Homo sapiens: one gene and its partners. The protein of the gene in region 6 purifies or fractionates together with the protein of the main gene of each other region. This does not show direct contact. Each region holds a gene or a part of one and is shown on either strand. Other genes may lie near its edges. The genes, in order: SEPTIN8, ABL2, ACBD3, OAT, PPP6C, AXL and MRPS31.

The links.
Region 1: the proteins of AXL (region 6) and SEPTIN8 purify together in Homo sapiens (affinity purification with mass spectrometry; one large-scale study listed by BioGRID and IntAct). This does not show direct contact.
Region 2: the proteins of AXL (region 6) and ABL2 purify together in Homo sapiens (affinity purification with western blotting, with the first as the bait; one study listed by BioGRID). This does not show direct contact.
Region 3: the proteins of AXL (region 6) and ACBD3 purify together in Homo sapiens (affinity purification with mass spectrometry; one large-scale study listed by BioGRID and IntAct). This does not show direct contact.
Region 4: the proteins of AXL (region 6) and OAT purify together in Homo sapiens (affinity purification with mass spectrometry, with the first as the bait; one large-scale study listed by BioGRID). This does not show direct contact.
Region 5: the proteins of AXL (region 6) and PPP6C purify together in Homo sapiens (affinity purification with mass spectrometry, with the first as the bait; one large-scale study listed by BioGRID). This does not show direct contact.
Region 7: the proteins of AXL (region 6) and MRPS31 purify together in Homo sapiens (affinity purification with mass spectrometry; one large-scale study listed by BioGRID and IntAct). This does not show direct contact.

What each region holds. Positions count from the first base shown.
Region 1 is NC_000005.10:132,774,440-132,778,658, reverse strand, and holds the start of SEPTIN8 (septin-8), read left to right. Parts: upstream 1-1,419; 5' UTR 1,420-1,521; coding exon 1,522-1,551; intron 1,552-4,219. UniProt on the Homo sapiens protein: Filament-forming cytoskeletal GTPase. May play a role in platelet secretion. Seems to participate in the process of SNARE complex formation in synaptic vesicles.
Region 2 is NC_000001.11:179,107,678-179,111,177, forward strand, and holds part of ABL2 (tyrosine-protein kinase ABL2), read right to left. Parts: intron 3,169-3,500; coding exon of another isoform or gene 3,128-3,168; exon of another isoform or gene 2,898-3,127; intron 2,779-2,897; coding exon 2,605-2,778; intron 1,765-2,604; coding exon 41-1,764; 3' UTR 1-40. UniProt on the Homo sapiens protein: Non-receptor tyrosine-protein kinase that plays an ABL1-overlapping role in key processes linked to cell growth and survival such as cytoskeleton remodeling in response to extracellular stimuli, cell motility and adhesion and receptor endocytosis.
Region 3 is NC_000001.11:226,180,242-226,183,741, forward strand, and holds part of ACBD3 (Golgi resident protein GCP60), read right to left. Parts: intron 1-3,500. UniProt on the Homo sapiens protein: Involved in the maintenance of Golgi structure by interacting with giantin, affecting protein transport between the endoplasmic reticulum and Golgi. Involved in hormone-induced steroid biosynthesis in testicular Leydig cells.
Region 4 is NC_000010.11:124,399,364-124,401,923, forward strand, and holds part of OAT (ornithine aminotransferase, mitochondrial isoform 1 precursor), read right to left. Parts: intron 2,477-2,560; coding exon 2,363-2,476; intron 1,622-2,362; coding exon 1,477-1,621; intron 1-1,476. UniProt on the Homo sapiens protein: Catalyzes the reversible interconversion of L-ornithine and 2-oxoglutarate to L-glutamate semialdehyde and L-glutamate.
Region 5 is NC_000009.12:125,151,804-125,155,303, forward strand, and holds part of PPP6C (serine/threonine-protein phosphatase 6 catalytic subunit), read right to left. Parts: intron 2,183-3,500; coding exon 2,103-2,182; intron 1,940-2,102; coding exon 1,730-1,939; intron 1-1,729.
Region 6 is NC_000019.10:41,253,723-41,257,222, forward strand, and holds part of AXL (tyrosine-protein kinase receptor UFO isoform 1 precursor), read left to right. Parts: intron 1-2,729; coding exon 2,730-2,889; intron 2,890-3,500. UniProt on the Homo sapiens protein: Receptor tyrosine kinase that transduces signals from the extracellular matrix into the cytoplasm by binding growth factor GAS6 and which is thus regulating many physiological processes including cell survival, cell proliferation, migration and differentiation.
Region 7 is NC_000013.11:40,728,628-40,730,909, reverse strand, and holds the end of MRPS31 (small ribosomal subunit protein mS31), read left to right. Parts: intron 1-1,308; coding exon 1,309-1,538; 3' UTR 1,539-1,782; downstream 1,783-2,282.

The DNA of each region.
Region 1 (4,219 bases), on a different chromosome or scaffold from region 6:
AGCTAAGGTTAAAAAGCTAGCAGGATTCCACCAGGAAGGTTTGCCATAGATCCAGCTACCCTAACCACTGCTCTGCTCTATTTCTTGTAGATAACTTTAATACAGCATGGGAAACAGCAACATAGAGAGAGGAGCAAAGTGAAAACATTGTCAGGAAGGTCCAGCGGGAAGTCAGTCCACCTTGGGGACAAGCTACAGTTTGCCTGGGAGAGTGAGGAGGGGAAAGCCAAATCAGGGTGACAAGGTCAAACAGCAGAGAGGGGGCTCCTCTTAAGCCAGGTGTGCTAAGTCGAACGTGGTCTTTAGGCACCTCCAGTCAGCACAAGTTTCTGAGTAGGAGAAACAGGTCAGGTTGCTTCTCAGCATACTGGGGTGAGGGGTGTGTGTGGAGGGTGGACCAACCTGGGATGAGGCCAGTGGGGGGTAGGGGGCAAACCTTGCCACATTCCCAGAAAGAGCAGAGAGAAAGGCAGAGGGAAGAGAAAGAAACGGGGTTTCAGAGGATTTGGGAGCTGCTTTTGTATAGATTGTCAGTGAGAAGGATACAGAACCTCCTGAGGCCTCCGACCCTGGCGTAAGTGTTAATTTTCTGAACGTTTTGAGCAGTGACATTAGCGGAGAGAACGTGCACGCACTGGGAGTGGTCATCCTCTTTGCACAATGGTGGAACCATTAAGACGTTGTCCCAAGCCCTTGGGACAGGCAGGGTGATGGACACTTGCAATCTGACGCCTTGACCGTCGAGCTCCGCTTTTCTATTGCAGGAATCCCAGCCTAAACTGCGCATCCTGCTCGTTGGTTGCACAAGGAGCCGAAGGCTGGTCCCTTGCCCGGGAAGGCCGCCTGGCCGGACGCGCGGGTCCCGCCGGGGTTCCCGCCTTAGCTCCGGCCGGAGCATCAGGTGGGGCCCAAGACACCCGCAGACTAGGCTGCCGCGGCCTCTCCCGGATCCGACGGGTCTCCCGCAGCTTGTCCACACTCTGGTTGGTGGTCCCAGCACATTTGCAGGCTCCAGCGGGTGGAGACGGCTTGGTGGGGGAGATCTCTAGGGCGCACGCCGTGCCCCACTTCCCCCTTACGGGAAAGGCTTTCCAGCGCGCGGACCCAGGAGACTCTCACCTAGGCTCGGCCCCAGGCTCCAGGGGACACGCAGAGGCCCGCCGGGCACCAGCCCCGAGCCCCCCGACACTGCCGTCCCGGTCCCCCAACGCGCGGACTACAAGTCCCAGCAGTCCCCGCAGCTGGCACCTCCCGCCTCGCCGCGGAGACCCCCGGCCGTCCAAGCGGCGGGGCTCCGGCTGCGCTCGTGGCCGGGCCGGGCGGGGAGGCCGGTCCCGCGGGCGGGGGCAGGGGCGGCTCCGCGGCTTCTCCCGCCGCCGCCGCCAAGGGGAGTTTCCAGGAAGTGGCCATATTGGATCCATTCAGCCGCAGCCGCCCGGGCGGAGCGCGTCCCGCAGCCGGCTGGTCCCTGTCGCTGCCCCTGCGCTCGTCCCAGCCCACCCGCCCGGTGCGGAGCTCGCCATGGCGGCCACCGACCTGGAGCGCTTCTCGGTGAGGGCCCCGCTGGGCCACGGCGCGCGCGGGAGGCGCGGGGCGCAGGAGGGGCCGCCCTGCAGCTGGCGGGGGGCGCGAAGCGGGCTGTCAGCGCCTCACGGCCGGGCCTCGACACCGGGCCAGCTCGAGGACCCCGGCGCGGGCTCTCGGCCGCGCTATCGGGGGGTCCCGGAGCGTCGGGCGGCCTGCCTTGCCGGGCGGCTGGTCGGGGTCGCTTCCTGGGGCGCAGGCAAGGCTAACCCCTTTCGCGGGAAGGAGCAAAGACCCGCCTGGCTCCGGGCAGGTGCGAAGATAGAGTGGCGCCCGCGGGGCCGCAGGTGAGGGTCCGGGACACTCCGGACCCTATCGCCCAGGGTGTTTCTTTCTGCACACTTGGGGAAGAGTCCTAGCCGCACAGGTGCTGCGGGATAGGTACAGCCGGGGAGGATGGAGGCCCCAGGATCCGAGAGAGTCTCCCACACGAGCCCAGGACAGTTGCAGACTTGAGTCCTGAAGACCCTTGGCCTGCTTTTCCTTCCTCCCCCGCTCCCCTCTGCCCCGCTCCCCACGCCGGAATCCTGGGTGCGACTCCAGGCAGGTCAGGCCTCAGTGGTCGGGTCTGCGGCAGCCATTCGCCAGGAGCTGGAGGGATTCCAGACTCAGCCCAGTGGGCGTTTATTTGGGCTCCAGTCCAGGTCCTCAGAAGGTTGATGTCCCTGGTGGTCCCTGCAGGGGTCTCACTGGGCCTGAGCCTGCCGACAGCCAACTTACTAAAGGCTTTCATAATTCACTCGCGGGAGGGAGGCCTTTGGGGGGTTGTATCTGGACATCCCCTGCTGTCTAAGGCTGGATCTGGGTGTGTCTGGGAGGCTAGGCTGTGACAGTGAAGGAAGCTGTGTCCTCTTGCCAGCATGTAAGGCCCTGGTCGGCTGGAAGGGGGAGGAGGGGGAGAAGGAGGAGGAGGAGGAGGGAGGCCCAGGGCTGTTGGAGGGAAGGGGGAATTCTGAATATGTGAACGATAACGAATTGGTTCTGGGGCTAAATAAGGGAGCCAGGACTTATGTAATTAATGCTATAAATACCGTCATCCCAATTTATATATGTAAATTTTCCATTTAATCTGAAAATACATTTCTTATTCTACTTTGGAAATGTGCATGACTAAAGCAGGAGCTCTTGGTTTCATAATTTCTAGACTCGGGTGTTTTATTCCCATTGGAGAGGGGGTCGTATGTCAGTTAAGTAAGTTTAAATACATGAGGAACAGATTCAGAGGCTGGGCTACTCAGAGATTCACTTCGCCCCGTATTATAAATTGGAATTTATGTACCGGAGGAGGGCAGTGCCTGAATCCTAACAGACCTGCTGATTAGCTGGAGGCCAAGAGACCCGTGAGTGCCTGGGTGTCTCTGCATGTGTGTCTGTGTGCATTTTCTGTGCCCAGCTGACCAGAAAGTTATGTCTGGGTCTTGTCTGTGGCCAGAGGTTTAACAGTTGATGTTGCAGGTGGGAGAGGTATGTAGAGAAACCAGAATCAGACAGCCTGATAGGAATCCTAGACACTCCTTGTTGGCCATGTGACCTTGGGCAGGTTATTTAACCCCTTGGTGCTCTCATGCGTATAATGGGATAGAAATATTTCTTCCCTCATAGGGGTATTGTGAGGATTCAACAAGAGAATCCAGGGGAGGTACTTAGCCCTGTGTCTGGCACATGGTAAGGACACAATAAATAATATATGCTACCTATTGTCCACGTGGATGTGAGGACTGGCCCCCTATGTAAGAAGGGAGCAGAGGATGCATTTGCCCTGTTCATGGCACTCTCTGTAGAGCTTCCATCCCTGCTCGTCCAGAGATGGTCCTCAGAGGGTTAGCTGAGAGGCCATGCTGTGGGCTGGTCAAGCCTTCCCCTGGGGTCCTGTGTTTGCTCTCGGACCATTCCTGTGAGGAGTTTTGGTATTAGCTGCGGGGTGGCCAGGGCACAGAGAGGGGACTGACTCAGGCAAGGGCGTAGAGCCTGAGCGCAGGGCCTTGGTTGCTATGCCAGCTTCAGCTGGAGGGATGGACACCTTCCACACCCTCTGCACTTTGGGCTGTCAGCCTCCTGGAAGGGCTTGGATAGGGTTGGATTTGGGTGGAGACCTTGGGTGGAGTTTGGCCTGAATTTAAGTCTGGACTCCATTCACCCTTCCTGGCTTGTCATCTTGGGAAAATCATTTCTGCCTTTATCTTGCTGTAAAATGGGCAGAGCCACACTGGTTCCTCAGAGAGTTTATGGAGGGTTAATTGCAGTCCGTGGCATGTTTGGAAATATGCTGAGGTGTCTCGCAAGCCCCAGGATGTGATGGAGCCATGACAGGTCTACACTGTCCCTCTGGCCAGCTCAGTGGTCAGTCTAGCCCTGCAGGCCTGAGAATTGTCCTGACCTGGAGCTTAGACGGCATACAGAGTTGTACTTTGAGATGGATGTGTGCTGGGTTCCTGTGTCCTCACATAGCATGGTGTACACACCACAGGCCAACAGCCTTGGCATCCTGACTGGGCTCTGCTCCACCCTAGATCAGTATTGGGGTAAGGGTTGGCATCCCCTGTGTGTGGGTGTGTGGAGCAGCCCTCTGAGGAGGGTGTGTTGCCTCTTGCCTTCCTCGGGCAGCCAGATTCCTGTCCACTCTTGCTGTGCCCCT
Region 2 (3,500 bases), on a different chromosome or scaffold from region 6:
CCTCAGAAATGTGTGCATTTTCCCACCAGGCTAACAGTGGCTACCTCTGCACCACATCACTGATTTCCTGTACACATGACAATAAGTTATTAAGGACAGGGTTTGTCCCGGGCACACCAGCAGCTGCTGAAGAAACCTGTAGCTCCTGCAGGCTGAGTTCCAGTTTGCTCACAGCCTCTCGGAAGGCAAATTTGTTGCGAGTTTGAGGGATGCAGTCCACATAGCCTGAGCAGTAGTCAAGCAGCTGGTGTCCAGTGTCTACCAGCTGGCTGTTGGGCACAGGTTCCGTGAGTGCACTGGACAGTAGGTCAGCACATTCCAGCAGGGCCTCTTTGCTGATTTTGTCTGCTGAGATTTTCTCAGCGGCCTGTTTGGTTTTTCTCAGAGCCACTTTAGTACCTGCTGTGCCATTGGCCATTTTGGCTGGCGAGATGGAAGATGTGGGCAGAGGCACTTGAGGTGGAGGCATCACTGGCCTCCCAGCTTTCCCACTGATGGGCACTGCGCCCAGAGCTGCCTTCTTTCCTCCTTCCTGTGTTTCTGATGTGGACTGTCCTGCAGTTAGGGCAGTTGGCTCTTCTGTAGGGTCTGAGCAGATGGACGGATGCTGCAGTAGTCTCATCACTGGTGGTGGGGGTGGGGCACACTTTGGTTTTACCCGTCGGGGTCGGTCCTTGTCTCCAGAGGATGTGACCTGATGCTCAGATAAGAGCTTGAATTTATTCCCCTGAGAGTCTGTGCCAATGAGCTGCACGTCAGCTGGAGTGTGTTTCAGAGTGGGTGAGATAAGGACTGGCACTTTGTGGTTGTGAGTGGTTGGGAGGACGGGGGCAGCCTTGGCTGGAGAAGGCCAGCCCGGCTGCTCTCCATCCTCTGGAACTCCAGCCATCCCAAGTCGTGCCCCACCATTCTTCTCTTTACCCTTGGGGGCAGCTGCCACTCCAGCCACTCCCACCCCTGGAGGGTCCTTCTCTGTAATGGCTAGATCCCCAGAGGGTGTTCTGAGAGGAAGAGCTGTGGCTCCTCTGGGCAATAACTTGGCTTTTGGTCTCTCCCTGCTTGGAGCAGCACTTTCCTCTGATTTTTTTGGAAGCATGTCATTGGCCCTGTCCACATTCTCTTCTGGCTGAGAAGAGGTGGACACTGTCCTTTCCAGCTGGAGTTTGGACCTCTGGCAGTTCCTGGGAAGGGTCATTGCCATCCTATCCTGCTCTGGAAGCCCTGAGGACATGGAAGATGTAGAGTTTGACCTTGGAAAAGGCTTGGAAGTGTCATCACTGGCTGTGGGTTTACCTGCTCGTAAGCCCAGTGTCTTTTTGATTAAGCGTGGTGTAAAGAAGCCTGTGATGCCAGACCACCCACCCCCAGCAGTGCCACTGCCCCCACCCCCACCACCGTCGTCATTACAGAGGTTCCTCTGTGCAAAGCTCCCCCCATAGCACTTGGGTGGCACCAGATTCGCCTCTTGCTGGGCAGGAGTGAAAGAGAACCCATCAGCATGCTGTAGAGAAGCAACAGATGAGAAGTTACCCGTGAGTTCGTATTTCTTATGGGGCTGATTCTCCATTTCTCGGAAGGAGCTGCTGCGTTTGGGGGGTGTAGGAGCATTTCTCTTCTTCATGAAGGAGCTGAAGAAGCCCCCCTTCCTATCCCTGGTGAAGCATGTCTCTTTGGCATCTTCCAAGAGGCTGCTGGGTGACTTGTCTCTTTGCTTTCGAGGCAGTGCTGGGGATCCACTAGAGGCCTGTGCACCTCTGATGAACCCTGATGAGAAATGGCCGATCAGTAACTTAAAAGACAAGAAGTGAATCTATTACATTTGAGTTACCGAGGCTGCATTATGAGTTTTGTCAGCATTTATCAAAGGTCAGGTGTTGGCAGGACTCAGAAGCAAATAATAAATACATTATCATTTCACAGTGACTGGTGTTCCAAATGTGATGTAAGTTAAAAATGGGGGAAGATAGGGGGCCGGGCACGGTGGCTCACGCCTGTAATCCCAGCACTTTGGGGGGCTGAGGCAGGAGGATCAGGAGGTCAGGAGATCAAGACCATCCTGGCTAACACGATGAAACCCCATCTCTACTAAAACTACAAAAAATTAGCTGGGCATGGTGGCGGGCGCCTGTAGTTCCAGCTACTCGGAAAGCTGAGGCAGGAGAATGGCGTGAACCCAGAAGGCGGAGCTTGCAGTGAGCCGAGATCGCACCACTGTACTCCAGCCTGGGCGACACAGTGAGACTCCGTCTCAAAAAAAAAAAAAGAAAAAAAAAATGGGGGAGGAGATAACCTGCTGGTTATTACCTCAACACTCATCCTTTCTTTAAAAACCACTGCGCAACCTCTTCTCCTCTATCGGGTTCAGCGAAGTTTTTGATGGAACTGTAAAGATGATACATACTTGGGAACCCAGGGGTACGGAGATGAAACTGGAGCCAGAGTTGTATGTTGGATGGATAGCCAAGGGCTTCATGGGTGGGTAAAAGAGACGCCATGCTTTCCCCAGGGAGGACGGGCATGAAAGTGGACATAAAAGCCTCACACCCCATGCTTCTTTAAACAAGGCAGTTTCTATTTTGATTCTACCTGCTAAGGGACCCATACCTGGTGCTAAACTGGAAGCAGAATTTTCTGTGGCATCTTGTGCCCCTTCAATGTTCTCCTTGTTCTCCACCTGTTTCTTCAGTGTCCGAGTCTTGGAAGGAAGTATAGGTAGCCGGGGCAGGTATGGAACAACAGATGACGAGGAGGCGGCTCTCCCAAGCTCCTCAGCTACCTCTGTGAGGAAGACAAGGGGACCAATAAAAAGAACAATTTCATAGCAGAAAAAGGGAGTTCTTTTCAGAAAAGGCACACAACTGAGAAAGAACTGGCAAGTAGAGTACTAAAATACATACACGGAATCATAAAGTATGTACTCTTTTGTCTGGCTTCTTTCGCCCAGTATCATGTGTGTAGATTCGTCCACGCTGCTGCATGTGGCAGGGGTTCTCATTGCTGTGTAGCATGCCAACGTGTGAATATACCACAATCCACCTGTTCTCCTCTTGATGGATGTTTAGGTTGTTTCCAGTTTGGAGTTACTATGAATACGTTGCTAGCATCATCCTGCTCTGTGTCTTTTGGTTCACAATGTTATGCACGTCTGATTGGCACAATGTAGGAGAACTGGTGGATCACAGGGTATACGTGTATTCAGGTTTATTAGGCCCTGCCAACCTGTCCCCAAATAGCGATACTATTTTGCATGAAAGCTGTGGTTACTCTGCATGCTTGCTAAAATTTGATGTTATTATTTTTGGCTTTTTTTTTTTTTTTTTTTTGCAGATGGAGTCTCACCCTGTTGCCCAGGCTGGAGTGCAATGGCGTGATCTCAGCACACTGCAACCTCTGCCTCCGATGTTCAAACGATTCTCCTGTCTCAGCCTCCCAAATAGCTGGGATTACAGGAGCCCGCCACCACACCCAGCTATTCTTTGTATTTTCAGTAGAGATGGGGT
Region 3 (3,500 bases), on a different chromosome or scaffold from region 6:
ATTGCCTAGCATATACTAACTGCTTAGTAAAAGTTTTAAGACTTCCCCTCCATTAACTCAAAACATCCATAATCAATTCTCAGAAGTACCTCCTTTTCAACAACATAAGCAGCCACAAAAATACCAATAGCCAGGCATTCTGCTAAGAGTTTATATATATAATTTCTTATAATTCCTAAAACAACCCTTTGAGTACAGGAAAGCACAAAAAGTTAACAAAATTAAGTGGCAGAGCAAGGAAAACACACCCTAAAGAGTGTTGACTCCAGAGCTTACCTTTCTAAATACTGATTCACAGTAGCTCTTGTATTAGTTAACTGATAAAACATCTGCTCCTGGGCATTGGCTACACTGTCCACTTTCTGAAAACTCATCAAGCTACACACTTAGTATTTGTGTACTTTAGTGCACTGCATGTGTGATAAAGGGAAGCCTCGGGAAAATGTTAAAATCACTTACATTAAAAACATATACACACTGGGCACAGTGGCTCACGCCTGTAATTCTAGCACTTTGGGAGGCCAAGGCAGGTGGATTACCTGAGGTCAGGAGCTCGAGACCAGCCTGACTAACATGGTGAAACCCTGTCTGTACTAAAAATACAAAAATTAGCTGGGCGTAGTGGCATGTGCCTGTAATCCCAGCTACTCGGGAGGCTGAGGCAGGAGAATTGCTTGAACCCAGGAGGCAGAGGCTGCAGTGAGCTGAGATCGCGCCATTGCACTCCAGCCTCGGTGACAGAATGAGACTCCATCTCAAAAAAAAAAAAAAAAACAATGACAACAACAACACATACACATTCCTGAATCCAGTCAAAGGAAAGTTTTGGTTCAGCTCAAATTTAACATGAACTTGGTGGCTATAATTGTTTTTCTGTCTTACATCTGTCTCTCTTAGGTCTATATATCCTCCTACAGTATTACATACTTATGTCTAAAGGTAAAGATAATAAAAGGGAAAAAGAACTCTAATAGATGTTCCATAGTAACAAACTTGAAATTATCTGAGGATAGACCACTGAAGTCCAGGAGGCACACTAATTATATATGTTTCCAATGAATAAATTACAGCTGTACAGTATTTTAAAACATTAAGGAAGCCATTTATAAATGCTCTTGTAGTTGCCTATGTTTAAAGAAGACAAGAGGAAATGGAACCATTTCAGTTGTCCATTTGTTTGCTATCATTAATATAATTCTCTCCCAACATATAATACTCTACTATCAGTAACACAATTGGGTATAATCAATAGCAATGCTAGTAGAACTATTCCATAAAGAAAATGAGTCCAAGACTTACCTTCCAAATAACTGAGGGGCCTGAGGCAGGATCCTTAACTCAGAAATGGGATTAATACCCTTACAGAAGGCCTCTTGGAGGATTAAACAAAATAATGTACATACAGTTTTTGGCATAGTACCTGAGATTTAGTAAACATCTACTCAATAACTATTGACAATTATTACTCTGAAATCTTAAATTAATGTAAACAATCTACCAGCTTAATGTAATACAGTAATAAAGTATTAGAGAAGGAAAAGTCCACCCCAAAGAACTCTAAAAACCAAAATACAATTCCCCAGGTCAACTCCATCCAAGAAGTATAAAGGTCATAATAAAATGAACCCACTGGATTCCTGTGGGTCCTTAACCCATGGAGATAAGAAAACCTAGCTTAACATTGTTAAAATAGAACTGGGCAACTCTGGCCGGGCGTGGTAGCTCATGCCTGTAATCCCAGCACTTTGAGAGGCCAAGGCGGGTGAATCGCTTGAGCTCAGGAGCTAAAGACCAGCTGGGCAACAAAGCAAGACCTCTGTCTCTACAAAAAATACAAAAATTAGCCGGGCATGGTGGCTCGTGCCTGTGGTCCCAGTCACACAGGAGGATGAGGTGGGAGGATGGCTTGAGCCTGGGAGGCATAGGGGGCAGTGAGCCAAGATCGCACTACTGCCCTCTAGCCTGCATAACAAAACCAGACTGTCTAAAAAAAAAAAAAGAATTGAGCAACTTTGCTCCTCCCTTTAAAAACCTCCAGTGGTTCCTCATCTTCTAATTTACTGACAAAAAGGCCGAACTATTAATACTTACATGGCCAGGCGCGGTGGTTCACGCCTGTAATCCCAGCGCTTTGGAAGGCCGAGGCGGGGAGATCATTTGGGGTCAGTCCAAGACCAGACTGGCCAACATGGTGAAACCCCATCTCTATTAATAATACAAAAATTAGCTGGGTGTGGTGGCACAAGCCTGTAAGCTCAGCTACTCACGAGGCTGAGGCAGGAGAATCACATGAACCCAGGAGGCAGAGGTTGCAGGGAGTGGAGATCATGCCACTGCATTCCAGCCTGGGTGACATAGCAAGACTCCGTCTCAGAAAAAAAAAATGACAATGGCATGCAAGTCCTTCCAAGAATTGAACTCAGTTACCTTCCCAGCTCTCTCCATCAAACTGCTTTCTATTTTCCATTTTGCAAACAGACATGCTTTGACTTCTCATGGCTTTCATGGCTCTTGGCCTTCCCCCCTCTGGAATGGCATCTGCTCCCTCAGTCCTCCACACTGTACTGCAGTTGTCACTGGGTCCTTAACTCCTCTTTTGGACTCTAAGCAAAAGATAACGTACTATTCATTTATAGTTGTAACCTAATATAAAACTATCCATACTGAAAAGTCAATAATGTCTGAAATTTAGATGGTAAAATGCTAACTTACATTTACCCACATCTTCATCTATTTTACTTTTACTGTCATAAAAAATTAAGAATAGTTGACGTAATTGATTCAGTCACTGGCCTATTACCACCCTGACAAGGATGGAATAAGAAATAGGGCTTGTCATTTCCAACCCAAGCTATTTGCAATGGAAAAATATATCCATGCTTTCAAGATTCGTATTTATTCCACAGTGGAAGAGAAAATGTAATGTTCTTTCCTTTATTTATTTATTTTTTTGAGATGGAGTCTTGCTCTGTTGCCCAGGCTGGAGGGCAGGGACGAAATCTTGGCTCACTGCAAGCTCCGCCTTGAGGGTTCAAGTGATTCTCCTGCCTCAGCCTCCCAAGTAGCTGGGACTATAGGCGCCTGCCACCACGCCCAGCTAATTTTTTTATTTTTTTATTTTTAGTACAGATGAGGTTTCACCGTGTTAGCCAGGGTGGTCTCGATCTCCTGACCTTGTGATCCACCCGCCTCGGCCTCCCAAAGTGCTGGGATTACAGGCAAAAGCTACCACACCCGGCCGAAAATGTAATGTTATTTCTAATTCTCGTGAGATACTGGTATAAAACCATAGAATAGCGATTAAAAGTCCCAGCAAGACTGACAAAACACCATGTGTTCCACCAGAAAAATCCACACATTAAAACAAAGGTGCCGGGCACGGTGGCTCACGCCTATAATCCCAACACTTTGGGAGGCCAAGGTGGGCAGATCACCTGAGGTCGGCAGTTCGAGACCAGCATGGAGAAACCCCGTCTCTACTAGAAATACAAAAGTACCTG
Region 4 (2,560 bases), on a different chromosome or scaffold from region 6:
GAGACGGAGTCTCACTCTGCCGCCCAGGCTGGAGTGCAGCGGCGCAATCTCAGCTCACTGCAAGCTCCACCTCCCAGGTTCAAGCGATTCTCCTGCCTCAGCCTCCTGAGTAGCTGGGACTACAGGCACCCACCACCTCGCCTGGCTATTTTTTTGTATTTTTAGTAGAGATGGGGTTTCACTGTGTTAGCCAGGATGGTCTCGATCTCCTAACCTCGTGATCCACCCGTCTCGGCCTCCCAAAGTGCTGGGATTACAGGCATAAGACACCGCGCCCGGCCCCTCAGGTGATTCTTTAAGTGCAGCCAAGGTTGGGAGGTTGGAATCGTTGCTTTAAAAGGAAGAGTTATCACAAGAAAATCCAGCAAGGAACACCTAAGGGTTACAAAGGATGTACTAAAACATCAAACACCCAATTAAGTGACAGCCAGCATTATTTTTATTATTGACCCCATAACTGTCATTCATATCATTATTTCTGCTGCTCCTATAACCTCTACTGACACAAAGCATCAAAGTGAGGGAGGGAAGGATAGCAAAGAGGACACTTTCAAGTCCAGACTCACCAACAAAAAAACTTGAACTCTCTAAATACTGCATGACTAATTTAAGGCAGAAAAATAAGTGTCTTAAAGGAACAAGGGTCAAATTGGTTAAATGTGCCTTCATTTAGAAAAGAGCTATATTTTTTATACTCTTAATATAATTATAAATCAGACAATAATCTGTCTAAAAGGTTTGGTCATTATGTCAGTCAGCAGTTTCAAACAGAACATCCCAACACCCAATTAAAATACCAAGTGTGGCCAGGAGCAGTGGCTCATGCCTGTCATCTCAGCACTTTCAGAGGCTGAGGCAGGCGGATCACGAGGTCAGGAGATCGAGACCACCCTGGCCAACATGGTGAAACCCCATCTCTACCAAAAATACAAAAATTAGCTGGGCGTGTTGGCACGTGCCTGTAATACCAGCTACTCGGGAGGCTGAGGCAGGAGAATCGCTTGAACCGGGGCATCGGAAGTTGCAGTCAGCCAAAATGGCGCCATTGCACTCCAGCCTGGCAACAGAGCAAGACTCCATCTTAAAAAAAAAAAAAAAAAAAAAGTGTGGCCGGGCGCGGTGGGCTCACGCCTATAATCCCAACACTTTGGGAGGCCAACGCAGGTGGATCACGAGGTCAGGAGTTTGAGATCAGCCTGGCCAACATTATGAAACCCCATCTCTATTAAAAATATAAAGATTAGCTGGGCGTGGTGACAGGCGCCTGTAATCCCAGCTACTCAGGAGGCTGAGGCAGAGAATTGCTTGAACCCAGGAGGCAGAGTGCAGTGAGCCAAGATTGCGCCACGGCACTGCAGCCTAGGAGACAGAGCAAGACTCCGTCTCGAAAAATAAATAAATTAATTAAATTAAATACCAAGTGTATTTTAGGTCTTCCTTAAAAAATTATCTTGAGTAAATGTTTTATCTCCATACCTTTGGTTTCTTTAATGACAATAGCGTTTAATAATCCTTTTCCTCTTACGGCAGTTACAACATCAGAAGGTAGCTTCATGAGTTCATTTCTCAAGATAATGCCCAATTTGTCTGCATTTTCAGCAAGGTTTTCTTCTTCTAAAACCTACGTTTAAAGAAAAATTATACAAATATTAAGACTGTCCTTTTTTTGTTTTTTGGAGGACAACGGGGACTGTAAACACAGGAAAAACATGACTAGATAAAATACCAGAGGAACTTAACTTTCATTGCTATTTTTCAAAGCCTGTATTAGTTTCTAATTAAACATACACTAGCTCAGAGTCTTGCTTTCATCACAAATCTATTGCCAATCATTCATGGCAAAATAAGGATTAAAGTTTATTTAATGCAACTCACATACTGTCATTAATTGAATACATCAATGGACGAAATGTAATTCCTAAACTGCAATAGTTTCTTCCCCCCTCACAAAGATCTGTCCTCAGAGATTACATAATAATTGTATACCTTCAGCAGGCACTTAAAAAATCAGTCTGAAAACATTATAAATCCACACTTGAAAGAAGACTTGCTTGCTAAGCAAAAAGACGGGTCTGGTAGGTGGGTCACAGTTGAGAGTTCTATGAGGGCCAGCCAGGGCCGAAGAACTCAAAGCGCCAGGTGACTGTGAACTCAGGAAGCCCACGGAGGAAATCCAGTCTACTAGGCCAAGTTTAAATTACTTTTTGAGAATATCTTGTTCCTAAAATTTTTCCTCTATACTTCATGTTTTCTAATATTTGGCATTCTTATTGAATTTTTTATTATACCAGTGGGCCCAAATTAAAAATCACTTCAACATTGCTTTAAAGAATAGACACTGTGTGGCTGTATCAGTCTTTACCTCAAGGGCTGCGATGGCCACTCGGCAGCCTAGTGGATTGCCACCGTATGTGGACCCATGCTCCCCTGGCTTAATGGTCAGCATGATGTCATCATCACACAGCACTGCAGACACCTGAAAGACAGTCAATTCACCATGTCATTTCTCAGCACTAAGCATTCTACTAAGCATCCTTTTCCCCAGAGTCTCGCTGTCACC
Region 5 (3,500 bases), on a different chromosome or scaffold from region 6:
CTTGATGATTCTGTGAGCCTTGCAGCTTTAACTATAGCTCAGCTGTTACAAGATTTCAGACTTTTGAGGATGTTGTGTGGGGGTGTTTGACTGTGACTGGAGAAGCTCAGACTACTCTGCATGTGAATGCTTCAGGGTTTTCTTTGTTGAGAACAACCAGCAGCAAAGCCAACCCATGTGTGAGCAGTTCTCCCCAAGGTCTATGCTAAATTATGGCAAGAGCCCTGGGCAACCCCAAACCTAGTCCCGGTGGCTGAGCACCCTGTAAGGCAGGAGTAGGCAGTTGGGCTTGAGCAGCCATGGGGTAGGGGGTGGGGGGTGGTTGAGGGGGGAGGCAGCACAGCGCAGCAAATGTTTCTTGGGAGGAAGAAGCCTGATCCATCATCATCTGCTTGACTATGTAGCTTGGATTCTCTTTTGTACCTACTCCTTTGATTTGGCTTTACCTTCATCCATCTTGATCCTTTCCTGGCCAAAGATCCTCTTGGGCCCAAATGAACACTGTACCGTAGTCTTCTGGAAAGCAAATGTGCTTCCTGCTATGTAATCGCTAACATTCACATTACATGATTTGCTGTAGCTTGATCTTCCTTAGCCTACTACCACTGTGGCAGTAGGTTTTAGGTGGTATCATAGTGCCTTTTGATTAATTTAAGTATTTAATTTTCATCTTCTTTCTTTGGATCTATTTGGCTTTTCAAATGAACAGAGATTTCTGTTAAAAAGAAAAAAAAGATTTGACGTAGGCTGGGCGCGGTGGCTCACGCCTGTAATCCCAGCACCTTGGGAGACCAAGGTGGGCAGATGACCTGAGGTCAGGAGTTCAAGACCAGCCTCACCAACATGGTGAAACCCCGTCTCTACTAAAAATACAAAATTAGCCAGGCGTGGTGGTGTACACCTGTAATCCCAGCTACTCGGGAGGCTGAGACAGGAGAATCGCTTGAATCCAGGAGGCAGAGGTTGCAGTGAGCCGAGATTGCACCATTGTACTCCAGCCTGGGCAACATGAGCGAAACTCTTGTCTCAAAAAAAAAAAGATTCATGTTATTGTCTCTTGTAGAGGAAACTAATAAAGTGTCTGTATCTGTGTGATTTGAGGTCTTTGAGAAAAAAAAAAAAAAGTATTGCCTATCTTGGTCTTGCCATTTTGTTACTTAACTACAGTACTTGAAAGGAAAGGGGCTGGCCGGGTGCGGTGGCTCACACCTATAATCCCAGCACTTTGGGAGGCTGAGGCGGGTGGATCACCTGAGGTCAGGAGTTCAAGACCAGCCTAGCCAACACGGTGAAATCCCATCTCTACTAAGAATACAAAAATTAGCCAGGCATGGTGGCGCACACCTGTGGTCCCAGCTACTCAGGAGGCTGAGGCAGGAGAATGGCTTGAACCTGGGAGGCAGAGGTTGTTGCAGTGAGCCAAGATCACGCCACTGCACTCCAGCCTAGGCGACAGAGCAAGACTCCATCTCAAAAACAAAAAAAAAAGGAAAGAACATTTACTTTATACATTATTACCAAATGGATGCTGGAGTAGGTGCTTTCACTGTGTCATCTTATTTAACCATTAAAGAAAGACATACGTTAATAACTAAACTAGAAATTTAATATCCACAGCCACCATATTTTGAGTAAGCTAGACTACAAGTTTGTTATCTAGGGCCACCATAGTTCTCTATGCAGCCCATTAGCAATCCACAAATTACATTTCCAAAAATGTTGGCTTTACCTCATTTGTGACCTTTGCTCCAAAAAGCCAACCTGCTCCTCGGGGACTGATAGCCCAGGTATCCACATCTTCAGGATCTGACCAAACCAGATCACAAAATGCTCCTTTATGAGGAATTTCCTGATTCCGTTCGATGGTTCGAATTTGATCCAGTGTTTTGATATCAGGAGATAAACCACCATGGACACACAAAATCTGCTCATCTATTAACTAGCAAAAAAGGATAACAAAGAGTTGAACATATAACCTCAGGCATATCTAAACTCATCAGTGAATACTAAAGATATCAATATAATTGAGATGACAACTAGATAAAAATATGCAATGTGTTATTGGCAGGAACGTACATGAGACTTTAAAAATAGAAACTTACAGCTGCTACTGTGAGCATGTCAAAAACTTTGGTACAGTATCTCCAGGCATTAGCATTTCCATATTTGGTTTGGCACTCATCTGTGAAAGAAACAGAAGGGTTTTAATTAATGAATCTGCTAATAAAAATAAACAATATATCCAATACTAGAGCAGCCTTCAGTACAACAGAAATTCAGCTTAAACTAGGATAGCAAGATATGACACATATTTAGTCCTGCTAGGACCTCCACATAGAGCCAAAAGAACGCTAGTGACTAACTACATACAGTTGTATGTCCCTTAACCATGGGGATACATTCTAAAAAATGCATTGTTAGGTGATTTCATCGTTGTGTGAACATCATCGGATGTCCTTACATAAACCTAGATGGTCTAGCCTACTACACACCTAGGCAATATGATATAGCCTATTGCTCATAGGCTATAAATTTGTGCAGCATGTAACTGTACTAAATATCATAAGGAAATAGTAACACAATGGTAAGTATTTGTGCAATAGGAATTTTTCAGCTCCGTTTTATCTATGGGACCACTGTCATATATACAGTCCATCATCGACTGAAATGTCATTATGTGGCACATGACTGTATTTCCTAAGGATGTAGTACTGCTCTTCATTCCTGGAATGGACCTAAGAAGCAGCTGAAATTATTAGCCAAAATGCTATCATTAGAAGAGTTAAATACTAATTTCACACAACCTGAAGCAAATGTTTTAACAGTTATGTTAATATTAGGCAATTCTGGTAAGCAGATAAATTTATTTAAGGAGACAATTCTAGCAGGATAAACAGATCAAACAAATTAGAGGATCCTTAGTTATAGGAGCATGAGCAATTCCTAACTCTTCTCAGGGCTAAGTTGTCTCTTCTGAGATTTTCTGCAAATCGTGCGACTAAACACTTGAGCTTCAGTGGATCAAAACTGAGGACAGATTGCCAATCAGGTTCTTACAAATTCTCAGTTGAACACTCTTTCTGCTGCCTACGTAGTTTTTTGTTTTTGAGACAAGGTCTCACTCTATTGCCCAAGTTGGAATACAGTGGCACAATCAGCAGTGGCGCGATCACAGCTCACTGCAACCTCAACCACTTGGGTTCAAGCGATCCCACCACCTCAGCCTTCTGAACAGCTGGAACTACAGGCAAGTGCCACCACACCTGGCTAATTTTATTTCTGGTAGAGATGGGGATCTCCCTATGTTGTCCAGGCTGGTCTTGAACTCCTGAGCTCAAGCAATCCTCCTACCTCAGCCTCCCACAGTGCTGAGAATACAGATGTGAGCCACTGTACCCTGACTGTCTACATAGTTAATAGGGTACACACTTCTTTTGTTAACACCATGGAAGCTCTGTACTTTGGCTTCTTCCATAATTTTAGAAAAAAAAAAACCTGAC
Region 6 (3,500 bases):
GGGACCCCCCCCCCCCAACTGCTCCTGCACTCCCTGAGGGAGTTCCCTCCCTCCTTCTTAGGATGGAAGCAGGGCTAGACACCCGCTGAGGGCAGGTCAGAACTCAGGACCAGGAAAGTCAGTAAGGGGGTCTGGGAAGGCTTCCTGGAGGAGGTGAGTCCTGAACTGAGATCTGGAAGGAGCATTTGGATGCGGAGAGGGAAGAGACCAGAAGGTGGGCTCAGTGCACAGCATGAGGTGAGCAAAGGGGCTGAGGTGACCGATGGGGGTGGGGACACGTGAGCTGCATCTCTGTCCCACTCCATGCTGGGTGTCTTGCCTGGGGCTGCCCTTTGGAAGCGGCCACACTGGATAAGAAAATCAAACTCCCCACCAATGGACAAGCAGAAAATATGCCAGATGGGGTGCAGTGGCTCACGCCTGTAATCCCAGCACTTTGGGAGTCCGAGGCGGGTGGATCACTTGAGGCCAGGAGTTCGAGACCAGCCTTGGTGAAACCCCCTGTCTACTAAAAGTACAAAATTCAGCCTGGTGCGGTGGTGTGCGCCTGTAATCCCAACACGAGAATTGCTTGAACCCAGGAGGCGGAGGTTGCAATGAGCCGAGATCGCATCACTGCACTCCAGCCTGGGCGACAGAGCAAGACTCTGTCTCAAAAAAAAAAAAAAAAAGAAAGAAAGAAAGAAAGAAAGAAAAAAGAAAATAGTAACCTGTAGTCCCAGCCATTCCCAAGGCTTAGGTGAGAGGATTGCTTGAGCCTCGAGACCAGCCTGGGTAACAACAACGAGACACCATCTCAAAAAAAAAGAAAAAAAGAAAAGAAAGAACAAAAAATCCCCCAAAAGCCAGAATAGAGGGTAAGGGGAGGGTAGAAGGTGGAGGGAATGGAACCACAGAGTTAGAATATTAGTCTTGGCCAGGCGCAGTGGCTCACATCTATAATCCCAGCCCTTTGGGAGGCTGAGGCAGGAGGATCACTTGTACCCAGGAGTTCAAGACCAGCCTGGGCAACATAGTGAATCCTGTCTTTACAAAAAATAAATTAGCTGGGCATGGTGGTGTATACCTGTGGTTCCAGCTACTTGGGAGGCTGAGGTGGAAGGATTGCTAGAGCCCAGGAGGTTGAGGCTGAAGTCAGCCATGATGGTATCACTTCACTACTGCCTGGGCAACAGGGCAAGATCCCATCTAAAAAAAAATTGATGTATATTTTACATACACTAAAATATACACATGCAGCTCAGCTCGATGAATTTTTATGGGTATAGACCCATGTAACCACTAGATGAAGGTAAAGAATATTTCTTAGCCCCAGCAGGCTCCTTCATGCCTCTTCGTCTTCCCAATCACTACCGCCAAGTGGTACCCACTATCCTGACTTCTCAGTGCTAGTTTAGCCTGTTCTGAAAAGTCATACAAATGGGATCATGCAGTTTGTACTGCTTTGTGTCTGGCTTCTATGGCTCAGCATGATGTTTTTGAGATGGATCTGTGTAGGGGTAGTTTGCTCTTTTTCTTTGCTGTGTGGTATGGTATTCCATCATATGAATGTCCTGTGGATTTTCTTTTCTTTTTTTCTCTTTCTTTCTTTTTCTTTCTTTTCTTTCTTTTTCTCTCTGTCCTTTCTTCTTTCTTTTCTTTCTCTTTCTCTCTCTTTATCTCCTTCCTTCCTTCCTTCCCTCCCTCCCTCTCTCTTTCCCTTTCTTTCCCTTTTTTTCTTTCTTTTCTTTTTTGTTTTGACAGAGTCTTACTCTGTCCTTTAGGGTGGGGTGCAGTGGCATGATCATAGCTCACTGTAGCCTCCAACTCCTGGCTCAAGCTATCCTTCTGCCTCAGCCTCCTAAGTAGCTGGAACTACAGACATGTGCCACCATGTCCAGCTAATTTTTAAATTTTTTTGTAGAGACAGGGTCTTGCTTTGTTTTCCAGGCTGGTCTTGAACTCCTAGCCTCAAGTGATCCTCCCACCTTGGCCTCCCAAGGTGCTGAAATTACAGGCTTGAGCCACTGTGCCTGTTTTTTTTTTTGTTTGTTTTTGAGACGGAGTCTCACTCACTCTGTTGCCCAGGCTGGAGTGCAGTGGCGTGATCTCAGCTCACTGCAACCTCCGCCTACTGGGTTCAACTGATTCTCTTGCTTCAGCCTCCCAGGTAGCTGGGATTTCAGATGTGCACCAACACACCTGGCTAATTTTTGTACTTTTAGTAGAGACAGAGTTTCACCACATTGGCCAGGCTGGTCTCAAACTCCTGACCTCAAGTGATCCACCTGCCTTGGCCTCCCAGAGTGCTGGGATTACAGGCGCCAGCCACCATGCCCAGCCATGTTCTGTTTCTTAATCTGGGTGCTGGTTACATGGGTGTGTGTGTGTGTGTGTGTGAAAATTCAGTGAGCTGCTTACTTATGACTTGTGCACATTTCCATATGTACAGTATACTTCAAGAAAAAAAAATTTCATCAAGGAATCAAACCCAAGGAAGGACCTTAGAATCTAGCAAAGAGCCAAAATTGGGAAGTCCTGAGGAAGCCCTTTGTCCCATCCTCACTTGACAGAGTGAACAAGAAGTAAAGCAGTTCCCTTCTGGACTGGGATGAAGGTTTAGGAGACAGATCCCCACCCGCAGCCAGGACAGTGAGGGGAGGAGGTGCAGATGTGTCTGAGAGCCAGGGCAGGCTTCCTGGTGGAGGTGACTGATGCCCTGACCCTGTTCCTTTCCCCAATCCAAACAGGCTGAATGAGAACATGTCCGTGTGTGTGGCGGACTTCGGGCTCTCCAAGAAGATCTACAATGGGGACTACTACCGCCAGGGACGTATCGCCAAGATGCCAGTCAAGTGGATTGCCATTGAGAGTCTAGCTGACCGTGTCTACACCAGCAAGAGCGATGTGGTAGGTGCACTCCCGCCAAGAGTGGGGAACCATGGGAGGGCATGGCCTGACCATCACACACTATGCCTGGGTGGCTGTGGATGCAAGGGTCACAGGGACATGTGGGCTTCCCTTTGCAGGGGCTTGTCCACATGGGCTGGGCATGTCTTGGGGTATGGTGGGCATCTCTGAATAGTGGTGTGTACATGCCCAGGATAAATACAGGCCCACGTGTGCATGGTAGCAATGTAGACAGTTTAGGTTAGAAGAAGCTGCAGTGATTATGCGTGCATGTGCGCACACTCATAGAATGTGGACAGCCAGGGTGTGCAGAGTGGCACATGAGCTCATGTGTCCATGAAGTGTGTATATGTGTGTGATGGTGAGCATGTGTATGCATCCACAAAAGTTACTTATTCATGTGTATACCCGTGTCAAGTATTTTTTATATATATATATTTTTCTTTTTTTGAGATGGAGTCTCGCACTGTCACCCAGGCTGCAGTGCAATGGCATGATCTCAGCTCACTGCAGACTCTGCCTCCCGGGTTCAAGCAATTCTCCTGCCTCAGTCTCCCGAGTAGCTGGGATTACAGGCGCCCACCACCATGCCTAGCTAATTTTTGTATTTT
Region 7 (2,282 bases), on a different chromosome or scaffold from region 6:
TTTTATAGTGTTCTTGATGGTTGCCGTTATTTATGAAAATATTCCTTAGCGGCCGGACGCAGTAGTTCACACCTGTAATCCCAGCACTTTGGGAGGCCGAGGCAGGTGGATCACCTGAGGTCAGGAGTTCAAGCCAGCCTGACCAACATGGTGAAACCCCATCTCTACTAAAAATACAAAAATCAGCTGGGCGTGGTGGCAGGCGCCTGTAATCACAGCTACTGGGGAGGCCGAGGCAGGAGAATCACTTGAACCTGGGAGGTGGAGGTTGCAGAGAGCCGAGATTGCACCATTGCACTCCAGCCTGGGCGACAAGAGTGAAACTCTATCTCAAAAGAAAAAAATAATCATTGGCAATAATTGCTATCCTATTGATTGATTGATTGATTCAGAGTGTCACTCTGTTGTTCAGGCTGGAGTGTAGTGGCTTGATCTTGGCTCCCTACAACCTTTGCCTCTTGGGTTCAAACAATTCTTATACCTCAGCCTCCCAAGTAGCTGGGATTACAGGCACATGCCATCACGCCTGGCTAATTTTTTTGGTATTTTTAGTGGAGATAGGGTTTCACCATGTTGGCCAGGCTTGTCTTGAACTCCTGACCTTGAGTGAGCCGCCTGCCTCGCCTCCCAAAGTGCTGGGATTATAGGCGTGAGCCACCACGCCTGGTCTTGCCACCACATTTTTAACATTTACAGCATGCTAGGCATTGTAAATGAACTTTATATATAGTTTGTGTCTGTTTGATCTTTACAAAAATGCCAGCAAGGTGCTATTTTAGTTCTCATTATTATGCTTGAGGAATCTGCTGCTCAGAGAAGTTAATTAATTAGTCCAAAGTCACTGTTGTTAAATTGGTGGGCAAAGTTAGATCTAACTCCGGGCCAGGCGTGGTGGCTCACTCCTGTAATCCCAACACTTTGGGAGGCCGAGGCGGGCAGATAACTTGAGGTCAGGAGTTCGAGACCAGCCTGGCCAACATGGCGAAACCCTGTCTCTACTAAAAATAAAAAAATTAGCTGGGCGTGGTGGTACATGCCTGTAGTCCCAGCTACTCGGGAGGCTGAGGCAGGAGAATCGCATGAAACCCAGAAGGCAGAGGTTGCAGTGAGCTGAGATCGTGCCACTCCACTTCAACCTGAGCAACAGAGCAAGACTCCATCTCAAAAAAAAAAAAAAAATGCAACCTAGGTCTAACTCCAAAGTTCATGCCTTAAACTGTAATATTATATTACCTCATTAATATTATTTTTATGATGTAGGTTTTGTATTTAAAATTATAATGTAATGTATTTGGTCTCATTTCCTAGGTTTTGATGATGATGGTTCAGAATTTCATGAACATATATTTCTGGAGAAACACCTGGAGAGCTTTCCAAAACAAGGACCAATTCGCCACTTCATGGAGCTGGTGACTTGTGGCCTTTCCAAAAACCCATATCTTAGTGTTAAACAGAAGGTTGAACACATAGAGTGGTTTAGAAATTATTTTAATGAAAAAAAGGATATTCTAAAAGAAAGTAACATACAGTTCAATTAAGACCATGGAAATTTTTATTTCAAACAATTAGAGATGGATATTACAACTAAATAAAATAATTTTACTAGAGTTTGTATATGTTATGTTGATTATTACATTTGATTTGGCTGGTATAAATGTTACATTGTTTTCAAAAATATGATGGTAACTGAAAAATATTCTTGCATGGAGAAAAATCATCAGTATTCATAGGTTCAAAAGAATATCTGGGAATTAGTAATACATTTAAGACAACAACTCCTAACCTTTTTCTTTTCACTCGGTGACCATACTTCTTTGAAATACAATACAATTACTGGATGATATCACAGTACTATGTTATAAGAGTTGAGATGATTTATAGACAGATATATATGTACATACGTTTATTTGTTTACATTTATACATATATTTTACACTAAATTAACTACCCTCACCTAAGTCTGGGTCACTATAGAGAAATTAATCTTGTAGAAATAAAGGGTTTATTCTAATCCATTCTAGTACTTTAGGTCTTCATGCCAAAGTTAGAATTATTTCTTTTCCATTATGCTGCTGAGCAGCGTGACTCAACTTTCATACAATTCAAAGGATTGAGGGCTGGGCACAGTGGCTCATGCATATAATCCCAGCACTTTGAGAGGCCGAGGCAGGAAGATCACTTAAACCAACGAGTTTGAGACCAGCGTGGGCAACATAGGGAGACCCTGTCTCTACAAAAAATTAAAAAATTAGCCGGGCGTGGTAGCATGCACCTGTAGTCAC